Regions from separate parts of the Homo sapiens genome. Here region 2 is linked to region 1. The links come from fine-mapping of genetic effects on gene expression. Tissue or cell type: whole blood. Region 1 holds a variant in brackets; the other region holds the start of a gene. All regions are shown on one strand. Distances are between the middles of the regions.

What was found. PIP is the estimated chance that this variant, and not a neighbour inherited with it, causes the effect.
Region 2: it holds the start of BMP2, and the variant in region 1 is fine-mapped to the expression of BMP2 in whole blood (TOPMed, PIP above 0.99).

Annotation. Positions count from the first base shown.
Region 1 is chr20:6,892,771-6,901,100 of GRCh38, forward strand. No RefSeq gene overlaps it. Among named protein-coding and RNA genes, the nearest start is that of BMP2, 130 kb to the left of the region's middle. The variant T/C (reference allele first, on the strand shown) is at 3,444.
Region 2 is chr20:6,764,122-6,772,451 of GRCh38, forward strand. It overlaps BMP2 (bone morphogenetic protein 2), which reads left to right and starts at 3,565. Exons shown (of 3, transcript NM_001200.4): 1 at 3,565-4,754; 2 at 5,999-6,351. The coding sequence starts at 6,006. LOC105372517 (a long non-coding RNA gene) reads right to left here and starts at 3,363. Exons shown (of 4, transcript XR_937229.2): 1 at 3,200-3,363; 2 at 2,279-2,684; 3 at 1,731-1,887; 4 at 1,472-1,548. RefSeq lists promoters at 1-4,619, 3,429-4,070, 3,460-4,619, cis regulatory regions at 2,533-3,323, 3,330-3,429, 4,070-4,244 and silencers at 3,509-3,558, 3,649-3,698.

The sequences.
Region 1 (8,330 bases):
TTCAGTCAGAGGATTTAAAGAGCAAAAGCAGAAGAAAGAACAGAAGCAGGAGAATTAATTGCTTGACCACCTAGAGAATGATGATGTGATTATGGAAGCAATTGTTTGACTGATTTTTATTCATTTTTTCCTGTGAAATTCAAAGAAAATGCTGACAGCATCATAATATGACAGTCCAAATCCAAGCACTTCAGCAAGTGGGGATTTATTTATTTTTTTCTTCTTATCAAGGTTGAAAGATCTTCTAAGCACACATGAAAGAAACAGCAGGGCCAAGACTACTTTGAACTTACTGCATACGATTCCTTTCATATAAGATGTGCTTGACAAACATTAATTAAGTCTCCCAGCACCTCTTTGAAGTAATGTAGGAAATATGTAGAGGTGGGTAAACTGAGGCCCCAGGAACTAGAAGGAGAGCCTGAGGACATACCAGGGCAGGTGCAGCATTTGAAAAGACCCTCACAGGAGGCCCCTCTTTCTCTGATGAGGCCAGATGTAGGTGCTTGTTTCCAAGCAGAGGTCTTCCAACAAGTTCTCTCAACCAGGCAGGGGTGAGGCAGACTAGTTATTTGCTCCAATGGCCATACTCTCTGACCTAAAACTTTGGAGAACTAAAGGCTCCTCAGACCTGGCAGCCTTGAGCCTCATAGCACACCCTATCTACCTATAATCCAGATCCACCATCTCCTTCCTGAAATTGACAGCTGTGTTGCATCTCTCCTAATGCTTGTTTTGTCCTTATAACTGGCTGAGACCACTTGATTCAATGGCTAAAAGAAGTACCCTGAGTCACTTTGGTGCCTGAGTTTCTGCTTTTTTTTTTTTTTTTTTTTGCTTTTTCATTTTTGGAGATTAGCCTCACTGGTTTAGCATGAAAGATGTTTATTACGGGCAAATGGAGAAGTTGAGTTGTGATACAGGCCCCTTGGCAGCTTTGGCCAAACTCACAGGGGGCTCTAAAGCTGAAATAGCCCTTCAAAATTGTCCCGAGTTGGTTACTTCCATGTTGATTAATCACTGGATGTGGCTCTTCTGGGAAGGGCAGAGGCTGAATCAATTCCTGAAAAAGGTGAATGGCTAAAGACTGTGCCCAGGCCACATTAGGAAACACATCTTCTGCTTGCTAAACTAGGTGCATCCAAAAAGACGGACCTTGATCAGTTTTATTGGCTACCCAAATATCAATTCATTCTACACATTCAACTGGTCTTCTAACCTATATATATATATATATATGTGATGCTGGAAATGATATTAAACACTAAAGCAATAAAATACGAAGTCTCTGCAGTCAGGAAACTTAGTCTGGTGAGAGAGATACTAAATAAATAGATAAACCTAGAAACATAATTAGTTCAGAAACGGCTAAATGCTTTAGGCAATAAAAGAATCAGAGAGGAAATACAAAATAAACATACACATGTGTTACTGAAGAGAAAAATATGGAAAACACTATCATTTAGTGTTATTCTCATCTAGAGAAATAAAAAGTCTTTGATGATCCAACAAGGTATGCAGATCACTAGTAATTTAGAAGGTTAGAAAACTAAGAGTTATGATTGAAACTTACGGTAAATAAGTGAAAACATTTTTATATTGCATTTTTTTGGCAAAAAGAACAAAATAATTAAAATAATTAGAGAAAAATAACATTTTTAGAAAGGAAGATTTAGAATTAGTAAATCATAAACAAGTATTTGGTAAACAGATCTGTAACGACAAATGAATATTTTTGTTATCTACTGACTCTTTTTATTTCTAATGTATTCTTCTAAATCCACTGTCCTTTTTTTTCTTAGCAAAAGTTTTTTTGGCAATATTTCTTAAAGAAATCTTTGACTATAAACATGTTCAGTTGCTTTACCAAAAGTAATAATTTCTTGCAATTCCTGTTCCTGTTAAAATTTCTAAGGAAGCCATTCAAAGATGAGTGACATCTAGATATTTTGTTCATTAGTTCGCTTAACCATTGATTTTCTATTTTATTTACTACATTTTCCTTTTTCTCTATGATTTAGCTCTCCAAAACATTTGGTCGGTTTATATGAAAGGGGCTATATCATAAACGCTTTTAAGGTCTATATGATTTATACATACAGCTCTCATGATTCATTTCTCAAATAGCCATGTTTGTGGATTTTTTTTAATTAAATTCTTGATTTATGTGAAATAGATAAATACACGGATCATTCAGAACAAGGGTGTCTGTGTCTGGGGGTGGGGAGGGGAAGGACGGGAGGGATTTGGATGCATGAATAACTCCCTATTGGTCCTAATGGGATTTGCACAAGGAAGACTCCTGTATTCCAAGATACAATCTTCCTTCATTCTGACATGTGGTTAGCTATATGTTATTGATATCATAACTTTAATTTCCGAGCCATGTTAAATCGATACATGTTTTAGATGTCCCCCTTAAGGAATGAAACATAAAAGAATATGCCTTTTTTCTTCTACCTCTCCCCATGTTGTATTTGGCAAATTACTTTGACATTCTAAAATATCTTATCTACTTCTGACTTTAAATCGCTTAGGGCTGCATGCTGGTCTTTCCCCGTGTTGTAAACAATCCCCTATGTTTAATCAGAATTTACCATCATCATAGCAGAAAATAAAACCAAGAATGTGTCTTACAATGGGAGCATTTTATAAAAGACGATACTTAAACAGCGTTTCCTGTAATAGCAATAAAACATTTTCAAGCTCACTCTCAGCTGAGGAAGGGAACTTTTACCCTGCCCAGAACTAGAGTTGTGTGAGAAAGTGTATGTGTGCATGTTTCAAATAACCAAACTAATAAGTCTTATTTCTCTCCTTATTATAATCAGGGGAACAACCATTCTAATAAAATTGTGTTCAACAGTTCCTCTATAAACTCACTCCCTCATCCTAGCTCCACCTGGTATAATATAAAATCTAATATACTTTGGAGGCATTTTTAATAAAACTTTTTCAGATGACTCTATGTGGCAACACAATTCATTTATAGTTTCCTATTAGTTCACCTTTATAGAGGTTTTAGTCTTTTCTATCTCATGGGGTAAGTCACTTTTTTTCACAGCCAACATGTAGTTCTATTGATCTAATCTTTTTTAAAAGTTTTGAATGTAAGAACAAGGTTGGGATAGGAGGAGAAATTAGCTGACTCGTACCACTGTGATGTTAAGGTTGATATTTTATGTGGATTTTACATTACACCGACATCTTTTATTATAAGGCTATCTATTAACTATGCTATTTATGAAGGTAGGGAAAATGGAAGGAGATACTTCATGATTTATTTTTATTAAAATAGCTTCAAGATCATTCTGTATTATTCTCAGGGTCAAAATAGTGTTATTCATTCAAAGTGACTTCTTATGAAGGTAATATGATTCAAGGATGGTGATAATTTGGAATGACTTCATGGCAAAAAGACGTAGTGAAGCCTCCTGTGAGCA[T/C]GGGAGAAGGGAGTATTCAAATGAAGAAGGGTCACTTTTAATCAATGGCTGAAATCTGGCTGCCAGCATTTTGAAGTCCACACCTGTATTTGCATGGAGGTACCACTGGATTGTTGGACTATGGTGGTGCTTAGTATCCTGTTCTTAACATTCTTCTCCTTGGGCCTGTGACCTTATAGATGATAGTCAGCAAAGTGCAAAGTTGAGAAGCAACTCACTGCATATTGAAGAATCCCCCAAAATCTATGGAATTAAAGCATCAGATACCTCTGCAAGACTGGTTATGCAGTTTGTGAGGCTCAGTGCAAAATAAAAGAGCAGCCCTTTTATTTTGAAATAATTAAGAATTTAAAGATGGTGGCAGTACAGTATTAAACCAAGTATGGGGACCTTCTAAGTGCAGAACCTTATGTGACTGTTCAGGTTGCACACCCATGAAGCTTGCCTGCCTTCAGACACCTCTGGATGTGAAGGCTAAAGTAAAGCTAAAAACGAAATTCTACTTAAGTAGTGAGACATCAGATTGCCATTTCTGCTCTACACAGATGGGCTGGGGTCTCCTACCAGCAGAAGGCTGAAGTTGAGCATTCAGAGTATGGCCTTGGATATTCTACTATTTGCTGCATATAAATTCATTTCTCTAAGCCCAAGGGTCCTTGTTTCTAAAATAATAGTTTAAAGCAGATCTTCCAGATGCTTGAAAACTGAACTTAGTATTCTCTTTTTTTTTTTTTTTTTTTAAGAAGGAGTCTCACTCTGTAGCCCAGGTTGGAGTGCAGTGGCTCGATCTCGGCTCACTGCAAGCTCCGCCTCCCGGGTTCACGCCATTCTCCTGCCTCAGCCTCCCAGGTAGCTGGGACTACAGATGCCTGCCACCACACCTGGCTAATTTTTTGTATTTTAGTAGAGACAGGGTTTCACCATGTTAACCAGGATGGTCTCAATCTCCTGGCCTCATGATCTGCCCGCCTCGGACTCCCAAAGTGCTGGGATTACAGGCATGAGCCACCGCACCTGACCTTACTATTCTTAAAAATGTTCAAAAGCAAGACAAAAACTTTCAAAAGCAACCCTTGGGGGGTTTGAGGTGGCTTCCTGAAAAAGTTGGGGTATAAAGAGGCATAAGTGATCAATATTTTTCTCTAGTGATGGCTATGATTTCTCTCAAAATGTAGCAGTGTATTGAAGTAGAACATGGAAGTTATGAAAACTCTGAGATGAGGCAGATCTGAAATGAACCCATGCTCTGTCCATTACAAGCTGTGTCACAAAACTTCTTGTACAATGTGGTCAGTAATAGTACTTACATTAACGAGTTGTTGATATATAAGATAATACATGAATGGTACTTCTTTGGATGCCTGGCACATAGTAAGCATTCAGTAAATGGATGTGGATGAAGGCGAAGAAGGAGAAGAGGAGGAGGAGGAAGAGAAGGAAGAATATGATAATGGTAGTGGTGGTGGTGAAAATGGAAGCCATGGTTATTAAGAAAGTGGGAGCTGAACTGGAACCAGTCTGTGCTAGAATCTTCTTATCATCACTACTTGTAAGACCCTGGACAAGTAACAACCTCTTGGTGGGTTCCTGTATCGGTAAACTATCACTGAGTAACAAACCACCTCAAAACTCAGTGACTTAAAATGACTAGTATTTATTCTTGTTCATGTGACTACACAAGAGGCAGCTAGTCAGCTGGGAACCTAGGCTTCAAGTTGCCGATCTAGCTGGCCTGGGTTCTAGGCTGGCAGCTGGGCTCAGGTCTACTTTCCATGTCTGCTATCCCCATTGGATCTGCAGTCTGACTGGAGTGTATTCTCATGGCAATGGTGGAAGCACTAGAGGAAAAACTCCCTGTGCAAATCCATGTCAAGGTTTGTCTGACATATGGCTATGAATATCCCATTGACCAAAGCAACTCACACAGCTGAGACTCAAGACAATGAACAGGGAAGCATGCATTACATCTACTGGGAAGAACCCCTATGGCCAAGGGGTGGATACAGACAAGGAAAAGAACTGGGGCAATGAGTTTCTTTACATGGAATATGGTGCTAACAAAGTGACTTCACTCATAGACCTGTTTTGAGCATTAAATAAGATAATCCATGTAAAGCATTTAGCACAGTGTAGGCACATAATTGGCACTTAATAAATGTCAGCTATGTTAGTAATGAAGATTCTCATCATTCTATGACCCTAATGTAATGAAAGATTTTACACAAGAAAGGCATGTGTAGTCAGGGGAAGTTGGAAAATGTTGGAATAAGTTTAGTGGTGAAATTTTAGCCAGGCCTTAGAAAAAACGGGCAGAATTTTCATGAAAAGAAGGAGGGAGAGGGTGTCACTGAATGACAAAGAACAAAAACAAAAAGCCTAGAGGCAAAATAACATGGATCCAAAACACGGATTGTGTTTGGAGTTTTAGGTGAATTAACCACCCTTTATTTCCATCACTTTTCTTTTAAAATCCTTGAGGTGAATTGTCATTCCCAATCCTGCTGTTTGTTTGGAAAGAGAACAGAGAGTACACTTATAATAAACCAGCTGTAAACCTGTGTTCTCAGCTTGGAACTTCCTCCAGCACTTCCCCTCCCTGGGCAGGTGCTGCTTCCCAGGGGTCTCCTTCCATCCTGAATGGAAAGCTTGTCTGCAGTAATCCAAGGGTGCCAGGAATTAGGAAAGACGCCTTGAGGGCTCGATCCTGCCTTATAGCCATGAAGAATGGCTATTGCTTATGTGCAAGACTCCAGGAAGAGCCCTGAGTCTCCATGAATTCTTTTGTTCTCCCTGAGCAGCAGGGATTTGAAGCAGAGGACCCTGTTAGCAATGAATATTGTGAGCGCTTCTGTCCAAGCCTCCTGTATATGCCACACTCAACTTTCCCGGCCCTGCCCTTGTGGCAGCCTGCTGCCTTGCTCGCACCCTGGTGTGCTGATTAACCAACAGGGGCAGAGAGCCTGCTGCTGACACAGCCCAAGTTGTCCAGGCCTGTTAGCATCCCCCTCAATAGACACAGCCTGAAAAAAGGTGAGGGGCTTTCCTCCCCTCCTAGGAAACATATGTGTACTCTGAGGGTGTGCTTTTGAAGACAAACCTTTAGAGAAATCATACATAGAATAAAGTCAAGCTTGGAATTCTTCCAGCTTTAACATCATCCTACGTCTCCCTTTTCATCTCACCTCACCCTACCCAAGGAAGCATGGTTTGAAACCTCTTCAAATGCTTTCGGCTTTCAACTCTAGCCTTCAAATGGATTTTGACAAATTATTGTTCAAAACCATTTTATCTGGTTATTCCTGTCTGTATCGATGCTTTTCAGAGTGGTTGTGTCCTTACACACATTAAGGGATGCAAGTTAAAGGAGATGGTGATGGCTGTCCAGTTATTTAACAAATATTCAGTGTTGAAGATGTTGTAGTGTGTCCCTCAGATCTCCCCTTTAGGACTGAGGCACTCTTTCCCCTAGTGGCTGGGACTGTTGGCAGCTAACACCTCTCAGCCTTGTATCTCTCTGATCACTGTTCTCAGGTAGAGAGAACGCTCATCTCCAAAATTATGCTCTTTTCTTGGGAACAGTCTTCTCCAGACTGGTAGGTAAAAGGGAAAACACCATGCCTCGAAGTGGGACAACTTAAAAGGGCTGTCCCAACTTCAGAGCTGTCTTGGGGTTAGTTGAGGCTTTTGTTGTAACCCAGTCCTCTTCTTAGTCCTATTATCCTCATTCAACCATGTGTATTGATCCTGGGAACACTTTGCAGTAACTTCTTTTTTTTTGAGATGGAGTCTTACTCTGTCGTCAGGCTGGAGTGCTGTGGCGCAATCTCGGCTCACTGCAACCTCCAGCTCCCAGGTTCAAGTGATTCTCCTTCCTCAGCCGACCGAGTAGATGGGATTACAGGGACACGCCACCAGGCCCAGCTACATTTTGTATTTTTAGTAGAGACGGGGTTTCACCATGTTAGCTAGGATGGTCTCAATCTCTTGACCTCATGATCTGCCCGTCTTGGCCTCCCAAAGTGCTGGGATTACAGACGTGAGCCACTGCGCCTGGCCTGCAGGAACTTCTTTACACAGATATCTGCCTTAAAGTCATTTTCCTTAGAACTCTGATCTAGGACATCGGCTGTGGGCCAGGCATGGCTCTCGGCACTTTTCATACCTTAGCCCACTTAATACTCACAACTGCCATCCTTAAGAATTAAGGAAACCAAGGTCGGGGCAGGCTAACTAACTTGCCCGAGCTTCCTCTTAGTAAGTGGCAAAAATGTCTGCCTTTCTCCAAATTCCATAATCTGTATGCTGCCTCACCATTTTAAAAACAGCAAAGGCAGCTTAAGGCATGCAAAAATGTGGACCATTTGTTGAACAAATGAATGAATAAATGAGATGTCAAAGCAAACAGGAAGGTGGTCAAATGTACAGTAAAATGATCTTTCTGTAGGAATGTCAGGGATGAGTACCAGGGAATCTACACTGGGATTCAGCTGTGTATGAGTGTGTCTGATGCACGGATAGATCTGCGGCCATGGGTAAAATCAAAACCCCATAAGAGAGCTGCACACTAGATTCATCAAAGTGAGGGTGGAAGGAGGAAGAGCTACCACACTTAAATGGAGGTATTTGAGAAAGGAACTATTTACAAGAGTGTAGACAGATCTAAAAGAAACTTACAAGGGACGGTGAAGCTTTCTGTGTCTGACAACAGCAGGCAGCCATTATCACCTGTAAGACTGAATAGACTTTTTGGAAAATATTTTAATACTTGTGCCAATATAATTCATATCCTTTGTAATCTAATGTATTTTATTTTGTGCATTTAAAGCTATTTGGAAAAGGGATACAGGGCTTCACCAGATTGCCAAAGGGTTTCATAGCACCAAAAAA
Region 2 (8,330 bases), 130 kb before region 1:
TGGGAGAAGAGAAGGAGAAGGAGGAGAAAGAGGAGGAGAAGAAAGGCATCCAAAGTCCTATTTCTTAAAACCAGGCCATATTGCAGACAGAAGGCCAAAGAATACATTTGAAGATACATAGAGTGAGTAGCAATCAGAAACTAAGTTCACACATGTTATCCATTTGACCTTCATCATGTCAGTCTGAAGCAAGCAAACATATATTTATTTACCCCAATTAACAGATGAAATGACCATTTTAAAGTCAGTCATCCATGACAGAACCAGGAATTAGAACCCAGGTCACCCAACTACATCTTAGAGTGTTATCAACATAGTTTACAGACATAACTTAAGGTGTACATCTTAAACTGTGTGACAGTCTAATCAATGCACAAAATTCATTCTTTTTAATTTTTAAGAAGATGTAGTTGGTACTTGCTGAAAGCAGTGATCCTGATTTGGCCAACTTGGCCTAGTTTCTGATATAAATCACTCCACCTCTCCCATCCTTTCTACCATGTCTAATCAAACACCAAAAAGGAAAACATTTGATTGACTAAATGCTTCTCTTTTGCCTTGGCTCCAAGTTCCTGTAAAAAAAACTTCATCCAGGTAAAGTAAGTAGGGATGGTTATGGGTGTCACCCTTGTAACAAAGCGATATGTATGCTAAAAAGCAAAGAGGGTTTCTCAGGGCAGTTGCCACAGGTTTCCATGGAATGACAATTACAAGGTAGATGGATCACGTAATGCCTGCTGTGAACTTTACAATACATGGGGATCACTATTTTAATGTTGATTTGCATAATGTTTGGCCTAGCAAGAACAATACTGAATGCTAATAGCTACAGAATGCAATAAAATGGAATATCATGTGAGCTGAAGTGCTAAAATTGCTAAAGTATGACTGTAAGCAGTTAATTTCATCCCGAGTCTTGTCCACACACAATCAAATGCAAATTTCCACTATCTCCTGAGAAACTGCCAAGAGATGACTGAAATGGAATAGCAACAACCTCCTTTATGTGGAATCATTATCTGGTCATCTTTGCTTTTTTACATAACTTGTCTGTACCCTCTGATGCATTTGAATTTGCAACTTCTACTATCCCTATCTTAAACAACTCCCCACTCCCACCTCTGCCCCTTCCACATTTGCTGGCAGATGCACTAAGTCTGATAAACTCAGCAAGACTGAATCTCACCCTCTGAACTGAAAAACTTTGAATGGACCTTTGAAAACGGTAGAATTGACAATGGTTAGCTGCAAGTGATATTTTCAAGGCAAACAGACACTCTCCCAAAGTATTAAATAACCCAGCATTCTAAGTTGCAGGTGGAAGGTAGCCATTAGTGAAGAGAGAGAAAAAAAAAAGAAATAGCTCGTCTGTATTTAGATTTATCATTTCTGACTATTGCTCTTCCCTGGAAAACGGGTAGGTACAGTCATCCTGTACTTCGATCCCAAATCAGTCTCTGGAGACTACTTATTTATTTATTTATTTATTTATGGACTTCTTTCTTTCAAGCGTTCGAACTCATTTCCACCACAAGAGGGCAGCCATCTCTAAAAAAAAAAAAATAGGGCCAAAATTTATGTAAGTTGTGCTTGGAACAAGCATTCAGTAGTTCCTCAGAAATCATACACCCTACATAAAAGAGATTCTGCAATGGGCAGCACTAACATGAAACAGTGTTCAGAAGTACCCATTTTCCCTCAGATTCTAAACTGACAAGGTTTCCACTTACCAGGTTATGAAGTTCTAAAGCTGCAAGACATCCTTGAGGTCATCACAGGATATTTATTTATTTTTTCTTCGGGTGCATCCAATAGTTATCAACTTTTCCTCCTCTTTAAAAGCTACTTAAATCTCATTGAAGTTTTGTTTTGTTTTGTTTTTGAAATCTAAGTAATGAGAGAAACAATTGTTAACTTCTCAATTAAACTTGATAGGAAAGGAAATAATTTCAGAAGCCCTGTGTCCATGAGTAGGATATGTTTTATTGCCTCCTTGTTTGCGGTGCAATGACTCTGAGTGACAATCAACTTCTATAGCACCTTTTTTTTTTTTTTCAGGAAATAAAGTAGCATGTTCCTGAATAATTCCCCCACCCCCTTTTATTTTCCTGGTAGTCAGGCTTCCTCCAAAATACCTTATTTGACCTTTATACCTTTAGAAACAGCAAGTGCCTAATTCGCCTCTGTGGGTTGCTAATCCGATTTACGTGAGCGGAACCTAGTATTATTTTAGCTCCCCTACCGAAAAAATAATACACATGGATAATAGTTCTATTACCAGCTCCTGCTTCTGACTTTTTTCTCTCTGTTTCGCAGGCCCGATAGCTCTGGGAAAGCAGAACTTGGCCTTTTCCAAAAATTTTCTGCCCTTGGTTTTGGGGATCATTTGGGCAAGCCCGAGGTGCTGTGCATGGGGGCTCCTGGAATCCTGGGAAGGGCAGAAAGCCTTGGCCCCAGACTCATCGTGCAGCAGCTCTGAGCAGTATTTCGGCTGAGGAGTGACTTCAGTGAATATTCAGCTGAGGAGTGACTTGGCCACGTGTCACAGCCCTACTTCTTGGGGGCCTGGTGGAAGAGGGTGGCGTAGAAGGTTCCAAGGTCCCAAACTGGAATTGTCCTGTATGCTTGGTTCACACAGTGCGTTATTTTACCTTCCTCTGAGCTGCTAATCGCCTGCCTCTGAGCTGGGTGAGATAAATATCACAAGGCACAAAGTGATTGTACAATAAAAAAATCAAATCCCTCCCATCCATCCTTCAGTCTGCCACACACGCAGTCTACGTTACACACATGTCACGTAAAGCAGGATGACATCCATGTCACATACATAGACATATTAACCGAAATGTGGCCCTTCGGTTGCATATATTCTCATACATGAATATATTTATAGAAATATATGCACATATTTTTGTATATTGGATATATTTATGTAACTATAAATTTACATGCGTATGGATATGAAAATAAATGCATACACATTTATGTAAAAAAATTTGTACACATGCATTTACATATGTAAATACATACATCTCTATGTATTAATGTTTAAAAACACTCAATTTCCAGCCTGCTGTTTTCTTTTAATTTTCCTCCTATTCCGGGGAAACAGAAGCGTGGATCCCACGTCTATGCTATGCCAAAATACGCTGTAATTGAGGTGTTTTGTTTTGTTTTGTTTTTTGAAATCGTATATTACCGAAAAACTTCAAACTGAAAGTTGAATAACGGGCCCAGCGGGGAAATAAGAGGCCAGACCCTGACCCTGCATTTGTCCTGGATTTCGCCTCCAGAGTCCCCGCGAGGGTCCGGCGCGCCAGCTGATCTCTCCTTTGAGAGCAGGGAGTGGAGGCGCGAGCGCCCCCCTTGGCGGCCGCGCGCCCCCGCCCTCCGCCCCACCCCGCCGCGGCTGCCCGGGCGCGCCGTCCACACCCCTGCGCGCAGCTCCCGCCCGCTCGGGGATCCCCGGCGAGCCGCGCCGCGAAGGGGGAGGTGTTCGGCCGCGGCCGGGAGGGAGCCGGCAGGCGGCGTCCCCTTTAAAAGCCGCGAGCGCCGCGCCACGGCGCCGCCGCCGCCGTCGCCGCCGCCGGAGTCCTCGCCCCGCCGCGCTGCGCCCGGCTCGCGCTGCGCTAGTCGCTCCGCTTCCCACACCCCGCCGGGGACTGGCAGCCGCCGCCGCACATCTGCCGCCACAGCCTCCGCCGGCTACCCGAACGTTCTCGGGGCCAGCGCCGAGTGGATCACCGGGGACCGCGAGGCACCCGCGCGCCGCAGACCCCGCGCGGGCTGGAGCACCCGGCAGAGCGCGCCACAGCGCCGTGGCCTCTGCTGCCCGGGCTGCGCCAGAGCCGCGGACGGGCGCGCAGAGCGCCGGGGACTCCGGAGCCGATCCCTAGCGCCGCGATGCGGAGCACCTACTGCAGGAGATCGGGGGCCTGGGACGCGCTGGCCGAGGTGTGATCGGACCCCAGGCTAGCCACAAAGGGCACTTGGCCCCAGGGCTAGGAGAGCGAGGGGAGAGCACAGCCACCCGCCTCGGCGGCCCGGGACTCGGCTCGACTCGCCGGAGAATGCGCCCGAGGACGACGGGGCGCCAGAGCCGCGGTGCTTTCAACTGGCGAGCGCGAATGGGGGTGCACTGGAGTAAGGCAGAGTGATGCGGGGGGGCAACTCGCCTGGCACCGAGATCGCCGCCGTGCCCTTCCCTGGACCCGGCGTCGCCCAGGATGGCTGCCCCGAGCCATGGGCCGCGGCGGAGCTAGCGCGGAGCGCCCGACCCTCGACCCCCGAGTCCCGGAGCCGGCCCCGCGCGGGGCCACGCGTCCCTCGGGCGCTGGTTCCTAAGGAGGACGACAGCACCAGCTTCTCCTTTCTCCCTTCCCTTCCCTGCCCCGCACTCCTCCCCCTGCTCGCTGTTGTTGTGTGTCAGCACTTGGCTGGGGACTTCTTGAACTTGCAGGGAGAATAACTTGCGCACCCCACTTTGCGCCGGTGCCTTTGCCCCAGCGGAGCCTGCTTCGCCATCTCCGAGCCCCACCGCCCCTCCACTCCTCGGCCTTGCCCGACACTGAGACGCTGTTCCCAGCGTGAAAAGAGAGACTGCGCGGCCGGCACCCGGGAGAAGGAGGAGGCAAAGAAAAGGAACGGACATTCGGTCCTTGCGCCAGGTCCTTTGACCAGAGTTTTTCCATGTGGACGCTCTTTCAATGGACGTGTCCCCGCGTGCTTCTTAGACGGACTGCGGTCTCCTAAAGGTAGAGGACGCGGGCCAGGGCCCGGGGTGGGTGGTGGGTGGGAGGGGGATTTGGGCAGCCACTGCGGTAGAGCCCTTCCTTACGTCCAGGCCAGAAGTAAACAGACCCCTCTCCAGTCCACGTGCAACGGAGCCCTGCAGGGGCTCCCACTTCCAGCTGCCCCGGGCGACCGTAAGCCTCACCCTCCCGGCCCGCACTCTTCCACCCCTCTTTCTTCCCCTCTCCCTGGAATACTTTTGGAGCTGTTAACACTTAGATGAGGTGTTTTATTTATTTATTTATTTATTTTTAATTTTTTTAAAAACTTTTTTGGGTCAAAGAAATCCCTTTGAGAGGGTAGCCCCTGGGTTTCACCCGTTAGCTGAGAACCTGTCCGCTCTGCCATGGTGATCTCCATTCTTCAAGTGTTTCCGGGAGACTTGGTTTCTTTGCTCAGAGCCGTGTCCCATTTAGGAAAGTACTAGGAGTTTGGGGTTCTCCCTACTTGTTTCCAGAAATGCGAGGGGTCAGTACTGAAGGATCACTTGGTACTGTGTTTTTAACAGCTGACACGTGCATTAATAGATATTCACCATTTACGTAATCCCGGGAAGATACATGTGTATCTTGACTGCACTGTGGGGATGCGGGATGGAGCTGCCTTTCGAGACACCCCTGAGGGTAGGGGCCTGGGACACAAGTCATAAGTGGCTTCAGAAGTTGTGGCCTTGAGCTTACAGGGTCTGGAAGCTATAAGGGTGTGTGTGTGTGTGTGTGTGTGTGTGTGTGTGTGTCAGGAAGTTCTATACAGTGCCTCTAAGGAAGTCACATGCACCATTTATGTGTGTTTATATGCCAGACAGCGCTCAGCACTCCGCATTTGGGTTTGTATAGGGGACGCAGGGTGTCAGATCAAGCGGTGGTTTTCCCAGGTTCCCGGCATTGGCTGTCAGCGCTGTGTCACACACAAAAAAGTGACAGTCATTGGCGCTGGTTTGGTTGGGGGGGAGGGCAAATCCCAAATCTGATGTCAGACGAGCTAAGCGTTGGATGGGAGCGATAAATCATCTGGTTCAGGAACTTGGGACCCTTCATTATCCCAAACGTTTGAGCTTCGGTCGGTCTTACCTAGACTCGTGAGTGTGCCAAGCCAGGAGGGCATCCTGGAGGAGGCACGCCAGCCAAATGGGAGACCGGGCCGCGGGGGCGCGAGGGGGGAGGACTGGGCGGGGAACTCGGGTGACTCACGTCGGTCCTGTCCGCAGGTCGACCATGGTGGCCGGGACCCGCTGTCTTCTAGCGTTGCTGCTTCCCCAGGTCCTCCTGGGCGGCGCGGCTGGCCTCGTTCCGGAGCTGGGCCGCAGGAAGTTCGCGGCGGCGTCGTCGGGCCGCCCCTCATCCCAGCCCTCTGACGAGGTCCTGAGCGAGTTCGAGTTGCGGCTGCTCAGCATGTTCGGCCTGAAACAGAGACCCACCCCCAGCAGGGACGCCGTGGTGCCCCCCTACATGCTAGACCTGTATCGCAGGCACTCAGGTCAGCCGGGCTCACCCGCCCCAGACCACCGGTTGGAGAGGGCAGCCAGCCGAGCCAACACTGTGCGCAGCTTCCACCATGAAGGTGAGGCATGGAGCAGGGCGTGGGGGCGGGGAGTCACCCTGCAAAGCCCTCCACCGTGGGCAGACTGCAGCCGTCCCTGTAGAGGCAGCTTGGCCGGGGCACCAGCGGACGTTTCCACTCTTGCTTCTGTACTATCGTTTCTGAATCTGATTTTAACTCACTGCTTGTGTGGTGGGGGAGCCAGGGATTCCCCTTTAGTAACTCCGCACCCTCTTCCTGGCTTGCAGCCAGAAGAGCTACTCCTCCTGGAAGAATTGGAGAGAAATCAAGTGATGGGGAAGATGAGGGCAAAAGGCATGCCTCTAGTCAGCTAAACGTGCAAGAATTCCACAGAGGGAAAAGGAGAAAAAGGGAGGCAGATTGAGATTTCTTTAAGTCTGTTTGGAAGCTTTTGCTCTATAAATCTGCCGCTTAAGCCAGGGTTTTAGGGTAGACAGAGCCAAGGGCAGAGTTTTCAGAGATAGTATTGAAAAATCAAAGCCCAGGGCCCCAAAGTCTTTCTAATTTATAGTTGATCTGGGCCTGGTTTGGAAGATTTTGAATCCCAATCTAATCCCCGTGGGAGATCAATACTACAATCAATCTTATTGTTTCCACAATGACTTTCTTGTCCTGTGCTTAAATCTGAGATAGGCTCTGAGTAGAGACAAGGCAAGCCTTCAGATAAAAGCGTTTGTAGCAGCTGCCTGTTTTTTTTTCATGTGCACCGAAATGTGGATTTTTTTTTCTTTTATGATACTACATGTGGTTTTTCTAAGGTGGGATATTTCTGCTTGTTTCATCAGAAGGGCATTTAGTGGACTGGAAATGTCTTACAGCAGCTATTGAGGTCTGCTGTACCTAAGTTCTTAGAGCAATTAGTCAAAAATATGTTCCACTTCAATTCTTTTTCTACACTTTTAAATGCTTCTTTGGCTTAATACATTTAAAATAGAGCATGGGTTTCTTCAATTCCTAGAAAAGAGTACAAAAGTGTATATCACAGAGCAACCACTTGGCAGATATTTGGGGAGTTGGGAGTGAAGTTCTCTTTCTTGCCTTTCCCTGCTTAGGTGGTAAATTTCAAGTGGGAAATTTACACTGATAATAGACTAATGGGAAATGGCACTTCCAGATGTTTTCTCCCAGTGTGAAGGGTGACTTATACTTGTGAGAGTATTTGTTGGTAATGGGAATAAGTCCCAAAGGCAAGCCACATAGCAGAAGATACGTTCTCATTGAGGCAGCTACACATTACGACGGGGACACTGAATTGATCATCAGTTCATTTACAAGCACATTTCTAAGTGAGGTGCTCTCTGCTAGCAGAAATCAGATTTGAAAGGCAGTAAGATCTCACTCCACTCTTTCAGAATTCATCCAATGAAAGCAGAAATCACCTGTTGTCATATGTAAAATTTGTGTGTATGTGTACATTCTGCCATCTTAACCCTGAAATGATTATAGATCCAGCTAATCATTCCCAGGTAATGCTGATTAGAATACTTTTTTTTTTGTATAGGAATGTAATAAGAACAACTGTTTTAGACACCTCTTCTGGAAATTTAGCATGGAAGCTCTCAACTTTATTTTTAAGGCCTGGAAGATGCTGTGTCTCTGTTACAACTTAAAAGGAAGATCATTTAAGTTAGTTAACACCTAAAACATTCCATTGTGTGAGGATTTTATCAGTGATGTCTGCATATTCTCATCATTCATCTAGAAGTGGTTTGATCAGAACTAAACAGGCTACACGTTATTCAACTGTGTTATTTTAACTTAAAAAGCATGCTTGAGTTTATAAAATCAGAATTTATATCTTTGTGAGTGTAAATGTTACCTGAGAAACAGTACAGAAGTGACCAACTTGATTAAAATCAACTTGTAATAACTTCAGGTCTTAATGCAGTTAGATAATGGAGAAAAGCTATGTAATTTTGCCCCAAATTTCAACTAATCCATTTCTTGTCTCATTATGACTAATATATCATCCTTAATCT